Homo sapiens: one gene and its partner. The protein of the gene in region 1 purifies or fractionates together with the protein of each later gene. This does not show direct contact. Each region holds a gene or a part of one and is shown on either strand. Other genes may lie near its edges.

Region 1 (3,654 bases):
AGCAGAAGTCAAGCTGGTGTGGGGGAATTCATCTTCAGACATCAGAGGAAGCCTGATGTCCACTTCTCTCCGTGGCCATATAAGAGGTTTCCCGCCTTCCCTAGTCCCTGCCCCACAGCAGGATAGGAGCTGGAGGCCCTAAGAACAGAGGCTCAGGGTGTTCAGCCAGGACAGGAGTAGTCCGGGGAGAATAGCAGAGAGGTCTCAATGGCTTCTTTACCGGCCCCAGGAAGATGCAGAGGCACCTACTTCATCCCTGCCTGCCGCATCTGGCCAGAATCCCCAGAGTGGCATCCTCTCACTCCTCCAGTCAGCATCCTTCCTGGCCCTTAAAAATAGCTGCCTCTTGCTGTGGAAGGCAGAGCGGGAGAGGGATGAGCAGACTGGCTAGGTCCAGGAGGAGGTGGGCAGGCAGGGAGGTGACAGCTGCATTTCCCTGCTGACTTGGGGCCAAACCGGGGGCTTGGCCACTGGTCCCAGCACTGAGCCTGTGTGAAGCGGGGAACATTACAAGCTGAGCAGTGATGACTGACTTGCTGACCTCGATGCCCCAAACCCCTGCCATGGGTTTCAGGGACAGAGGAGGTGCCATATGTCAATGCAGGCTAAGTCCAAGAACTGCTTTCTCAGGGAGGGGAGAGGCTGGGCTCTGCGGCAGGGACGGCAGGAGAGCCAGCGCCTTCTGTCCCTTCCTAAACAGTGAAGTCACCCTCACTACTTTCTTGAGGACAGCCTATAAGAGATGATTGCACAGAGAGGTGAACAGGACAGGCTTCTGTGGCAAGTTGGCTGTCTAAGGGGAGGGGAATGGGAAAGGAGGCATAGAATTCAGCCCTGCCTCCTGGCCTCCAGTCTAAGAGGCCAGCAGGCAGGATTCTCCCTCCTCCTCACCCACAGAAGCTATTTGGTCACTGGGCTGAGAAGCCCAGCTGTGATGAGGCTGAAAGAGAAAAGACAATTGAGTTGTTGATTTCTAGACACTGGGCTGGGGACCCTGGTGACTGGGAAGCCACAGGGAAGAGGCAGGATCCTCCTGGCAGGTGTCTGAGGTTCTGGGAAAGCAGCCTGCTTTGGGCTGTGTGTTTAGGGAGAGCTGTCCCCATCCCTAGCACCTTCTCAGCAGAGCAGAGCCTGGTGATGTTGAGGGGCTGGGGGTGGCCAAAGCTGTGAGTTAGAACCCAAAGTGGCAGAAACAGGAGACAATGCTTTCATCTTTGGCCTTGGGACTGGAGGTCACCCCTTCACCCAAGTGTTTGTAATGACCTGTGAGACACGCACACATAATATTTGGAGTTGGAAGGATCCTCGGAGATCTTTTGATTAGCTATGGAACTCTGATTCAATTAAATTTTACTTAGATCCTCAATCTAAGAGACATCACTGTCTGGTTTAAAAAGAGGGTGGAAGGAATGGCACTTCAGCCTTTTCAATTTGATAGTCCCAAGACCTCTCTTGAGAACCCAGTTTGAAAACCATAATCCCGTCCACTGCCCTCTGTAAACCCAGGGGTGGGGCCCGAGGTCCAGAAAAGCCCTTTCTCTGGGTTGCACAGCATGTTAGTAGCTGGGCTGGAGCTGGAGTCCATGTTTTGGGTTCCTGGTCTTTGGAGCAGTTGCTGCTGGGCTGTGACAAGTGTGTGGGCCAGCTGGGGTCAGGGATCTGCCAATAGCCATCCTGCTACCTTCTCTGACAGCAAAGCTCATCGTGGAGACGGACACCTTTGGAAGCAGAGTTCGAGTCCGAGGAGCCGAGACGGGCCTCTACATCTGCATGAACAAGAAGGGGAAGCTGATCGCCAAGGTGAGGCCCCAGCAGGCAGGTGGGGTCCGCGGGACCTAGGGAGTGGCTTGGGCTGGCTGGACTCCTCCAAGACAGTCCTGGGCTCTGATCCCAACAAGGTAGGCAGAAGGCCACAGGGCCATCTTGGGGTTACCTCACGATTGGGTGCAGGAGTGAGGGAGAAGGAAGCTGTTTGAGAGATGAAAACTATAAAAGGCGAAGGAGGAAGAATGAAGGCTAGGGAAGGGGCTGGGGGGTGGTGGTTGGTAAATTCCATATATCTTTTTAACAAATCGCCAAATTGCTTTGCTATTATGTCCAATTACATGGTACCAGCATTTGGAATGTTCAGTAAGCCGCAGGCCCAGCCCCTCGGCCGAGCTCTGAAATGGCTCCATTAGTCACGGCTCCTCTCCAGCCTCGAGCTCCCCACTTCCTGGGCTTCTGGGGCTGGGGTCTTAGCATCTTCTCCCAGGCCTCCCCTCCCCCATAGGGTGGCTGCCCTGGGGCCAGGGAACCGAAGTCCTGGGGGGGTGAGAGGGGCAGGTGGGGAGACGGGTGGCCAGACTGGTGGGCAGGAGGCCAGAGCAGGCCAGGCTCTGGGCCCCTCTCTCTGTCTTTCTGCGTTGGGGCCCAGCCCCTCCGTAGACAACCATGTGTCACTGCTGCCTGGGAGGACAGGAAGTTGCCGGGTGGGCTGCGAGTTGTGAGGGATTAGAGAGCGGGTGCCCAGGCAGGGGGTGGGGCTGCGGCTCCTGCCCACCTCGCCATCTGCTGGGGTGCCCACCTGCTGTCTGGGGCCGCTCGCCCTCTGCCTCTGCTGGGGGGGCTCTGTAACGTGGTGTCTGGCTCCCCTACCTGCAGAGCAACGGCAAAGGCAAGGACTGCGTCTTCACGGAGATTGTGCTGGAGAACAACTACACAGCGCTGCAGAATGCCAAGTACGAGGGCTGGTACATGGCCTTCACCCGCAAGGGCCGGCCCCGCAAGGGCTCCAAGACGCGGCAGCACCAGCGTGAGGTCCACTTCATGAAGCGGCTGCCCCGGGGCCACCACACCACCGAGCAGAGCCTGCGCTTCGAGTTCCTCAACTACCCGCCCTTCACGCGCAGCCTGCGCGGCAGCCAGAGGACTTGGGCCCCCGAGCCCCGATAGGTGCTGCCTGGCCCTCCCCACAATGCCAGACCGCAGAGAGGCTCATCCTGTAGGGCACCCAAAACTCAAGCAAGATGAGCTGTGCGCTGCTCTGCAGGCTGGGGAGGTGCTGGGGGAGCCCTGGGTTCCGGTTGTTGATATTGTTTGCTGTTGGGTTTTTGCTGTTTTTTTTTTTTTTTTTTTTTTTAAAACAAAAGAGAGGCTCTATTTTTGTATTCCACTTGGCTGTGGTGTCTGTCTTCTTAACTCTCAGAAAGCTCCATTAGTGGCCTAGACTGGGATTCCGGCTGGGGGTTTGCGGGGGTGGGGGGCTTTCTCTAGCCTGTGCTGCTGAGGCCCCAGTACCTCCAGGGCCAGTTGGCTGGGCAGCCAGGGACTCCACTGCACCCCCAGGTGGGGCAGGGAGGAAAGGACTGTGACATAGGGCAGTCCTCTTAGAAGTGGGTATCAGACTGGTGGCTATTAAATGATTGAAATATTTATTTAACTTGCATATTAAAAATGTGTGCTGGAGAGTGAGTCCTGCCGGGGTCAGCCCCTCCCTCCAACCTTGCCCCAGCTGGTGGGCGGCTGGGAGACGCAGATGACCAGGTGCCAGCTCTGACCACAGCCTCCCTCCAGCCTAAAGACACCTGCCTGTCAACCATCCCCATCACTGTCACTTGAGGGGTTTTCCTGCAAGGACAGAAGCAGGGAAAGGGGCAAGAAGAGGCTCTTAGC
Region 2 (3,648 bases), on another chromosome or scaffold:
ACCCCATCTCTACTAAAAATACAAAAATTAGCCGGGCCTGGTGGCGTACGCCTGTAATCCCAGCTACACAGGAAGCTGAGGCAGGAGAATCGCTTGAACCTGGCAGGCAGAGGTTGCAGTGAGCCGAGATGATGCCATTGCACTCCAGCCTGGGTGACAGAGTGAGACTCTGTCTCTAAAAAGGAACAACAACAAAAAGGTATTAGAGAAGTTGCACGGACAGCTCCTGGACAGTTGAGGAGGTGGGAGGGAGAATGGGTTGGAGGGGCAGCATGCGCCAGCAGGGGGAGCTGTGGACGAGCAATGGGTTGGCGCCTAGGTTATGGCAAGAACAGTGGCTGGTGGATGTTGGTACAGCTCAGGACCGGTGTGGGAGCATGGCCAGGACCAGCAGTGAGCCTGTGGGGACGAGATCCTCTGGTCTAGTGAAAGAGTGGTTGCAAAGGCAGGGGGAGAACGGTGCTGTCCTGCTGGGGAAGCCAGGCCAAGGAGGGATGCTTGTATTGCTGCTCTGTGGAACCAGAGGCATTCTTGTCAGAAGGGAGGCGGTGACGCAAAAGTGTGGCAGCTGAGCCTTGGATCGGGCCCTGCCCCAAGGGTTCGCGAATGTGTGTGTGGCATACCTTGGCCCCATCGTCTGTCCCATAATCCTGCGGTTTTCACGCGTCTATTCTTAATAGACAGACTTTAGAATTGGTTTGTCAAATGCTTAATAAGAAGCCTCTGCAGACTTTGATTGGAATTGTGTTCAATTTATGGATTAATTTAAGAGGTTTTTGTCTCCTCACACATAAAAGTTCTATCATCCAGGAACATATATCTCCATGGATTTACATCCTTTTGCCAAGTTGTGTGCTTAGTCCATACCTTTCTGACCCACCTTAGTTCACCTTAGGTAGGTGATGGTTTTTGTTACTGTTGTGAATAGAATTTTTAAAATTAAATTTAATTATCTCAAAAACCCAAGGAGAAAGTTTTATGAAGGCAGGCCATGGTCACTCTCCAGCTTGTCATGAGTTGGGTGGGATTGAAAGCTCACTGTAGAGAGGTTCCTGGCCCGTGGCCCGTGCTGTCTGCTGTCACATGGCCCTGATGTTCACCTGACAGGCCTTGTTCTTGCTGTCCCGCAGACTTTGTCGCCTTTACCACTCCCAGTGGCAGCTCCTGCAACCTGTGCTTTCTTTGCAGTTGCTCCTGTTCTCCCAGCTGCTCACTCATCTCACCCACGTCTTTGTTCCTTAGACCCTGGCCATCTGCATTTCTCTTCTGCTGCTTAGATTCCTTGTTTGTTTGTTTGTTTGTTTTTGGAGATAGGGTCTTGCTCTGTCACCCAGGCTGGAGTTCAGTGGTGTGATCATGGCTCACTGCAGCCTCGATCTGTAGGCCTCAAGTGATCCTCTTGCCTCAGCCTCCCAAGTCTCTGGGACTACAGGCACATACCACCACCCCTGGCTAACTGCCTCTTATATTCCGAACTGCTTGAGGGCAAGGACCAGGTCTTGTCTCTCCTGATGATGCTTAGGTGGCCAACATGTTGCTGCGTACATGCTAGAGACTTAGGCAATGTTTAATTTATATTTTCTGTAGAAAAGCATGAAGCTATAACACATTTAAAATCATATTTTTGTATAAATAGCTTTAACATTTCAAGTTATTTCTCTAGAATGTATTCCTAACATAGGATTCTTATATTCTCTTTTTTTTTTTTTTTTTTTTGAGACGGAGTTTCGCCGGAGGTTTGCTCTTGTTACCCAGGCTGGAGTGCAATGGTGCGATCTCAGCTCACCGCAACCTCTGCCTCCCAGGTTCAAGTGATTCTCCTGCCTCAGCCTCCCAAGTAGCTGGAATTACAGGCATGCACCACCATGCCCAGCTGATTTTGTGTTTTTAGTAGAGACGGGGTTTCTCCATATTGGTCAGGCTGGTCTCAAACTCCTGACCTCAGGTGATCCGCCCACCTCGGCCTCCCAAAGTGCTGGGATTACATGCGTGAGCCACCGTGCCCAGCCTTCAGGATTCTTATATTCTTATATATAACTTCTTATAACAGAAGTTGTATCCGTTTCATGGTGTGGGCTACATAGGTTTTTTTGTTTGTTTGTTTGTTTGTTTTTTTGTGGAGTCTCTATTGCCCAGGCTGGAGTGCAGCAGCCCCATCTCAGCTCACTGCAACCACTGCCTCCCAGGTTCAAGCGATTCTCCTGTCTCAGCCCCCTGAGTAGCTGAGATTACAGGTGCCCACCACCACGCCCGGCTAATTTTTGTATTTTTAGGAGGATGGGGTTTCGCCATGTTGGCCAGGCTGGTCTCCAACTCCTGACCTCGAGTAGTCCACCTGCCTGGGCCTCCCAGAGTTCTGGGATTACAGGTGTGAGCCACTGTGCCCGTCTGGCTACGTATTTTTTTTTCTTTTCTTTTCTTTTTTTTTTTGAGACGGAATCTTGCTCTGTCGCCCAGGTTGGAGTGCAGTGCCATGATCTTGGCTCACTGCAAGCTCCGCCTCCCAGGTTCACGCCATTCTCCTGCCTCAGCCTCCCAAGTAGCTGGGACTACAGGCACTCGCCACCACGCCTGGCTAATTTTTTTGTATTTTTAGTAGAGACAGGGTTTCACCGTGTTGGCCAGGATGGTCTCGATCTCCTGACGTCATGATCCGCCCGTCTCGGCCTCCCAAAGTGCTGGGATTACAGGTGTGAGCCACCGCACCCGGCCCTACGTACTTTTTAATTGCTGTATTTACTGAAGCTTCCTAGATCATTATGTGAATGTATCTTCTTGGGCTTGGTGCGGTGGCTCATGTCTGTAATCCTAGCACTTTGGGAGGCCAAGGCGGGCGGATCTGTTGGGTCCAGGAGTTCAAGACCATCCTGGGCAACATGGTGAAGCCCTGTTGCTACAAAAATTCGCTGGGCGTTGTGGTGCATGCCTTTAGTCCCAGTTACTTTGGAAGTTGAGGTGGGAGGGTCACCTGAGCCCAGGAGGCAGAGGTTGTAGTGAGCCGTGATTGTGCCACTGCACTCCAGTCTGGGTGACAGAGCGAGACCCTGTGTCAAAAAAACAAAAAACAAACAGTATCTTCTGCTCACCCATTGCCATGTGGGGTTATTTGTTTGCATCAAAGCTAGGCATCTTTGAGAGTTCCATGCCCAGTTCTGGACTAGGGGCTGAAGTGGGTAAACAGATGAAAAACCACGGCTGCACAACACAACTTAACGGTGTAGCTGGACACGGACCAGGCCGACTGAGGTGTAAAGATGGTATCAATCCTTAAAACGTCCCTTTTCCCCTCCAGGGTTGGGGTCTGCTAGGTCCCCGGAATGAGTTGTTTGACGCAGCCAAATACCGAGTGCTAGCTGATCGCTTTGGCTCCCCTGCCGACAGCTGGTGGCGTCCGGAACCCACCATGCCCCCTACTTCCTGGCGGCAGCTGAATCCAGAGAGTATTCGACCAGGGGGACCTGGGGGCCTATCCCGCTCTTTAGGCCGGGAAGAAGAGGAGGACGAGGAGGAAGAGCTAGAAGAAGGGACCATAGATGTTACCGACTTCTTGTCCATGACCCAGCAGGATTCCCACGCTCCACTCAGGGACTCAAGGTACAGATGGAGGATGGGGATGCAGCAGAGGCTGGCTGTGCCTTGACACGGGGA

The links. Proteins that work in one complex are often made in the same cells at the same time.
Region 2: the proteins of FGF8 (region 1) and DHX30 purify together in Homo sapiens (affinity purification with mass spectrometry; 2 studies listed by BioGRID and IntAct, with this or other methods). This does not show direct contact.

The regions. Positions count from the first base shown.
Region 1 is NC_000010.11:101,769,609-101,773,262, reverse strand, and holds the end of FGF8 (fibroblast growth factor 8 isoform F precursor), read left to right. Parts: intron 1-1,686; exon of another isoform or gene 1,687-1,693; coding exon 1,694-1,800; intron 1,801-2,566; exon of another isoform or gene 2,567-2,643; coding exon 2,644-2,934; 3' UTR 2,935-3,154; downstream 3,155-3,654. UniProt on the Homo sapiens protein: Plays an important role in the regulation of embryonic development, cell proliferation, cell differentiation and cell migration. Required for normal brain, eye, ear and limb development during embryogenesis.
Region 2 is NC_000003.12:47,837,585-47,841,232, forward strand, and holds part of DHX30 (ATP-dependent RNA helicase DHX30), read left to right. Parts: intron 1-3,292; coding exon 3,293-3,594; intron 3,595-3,648.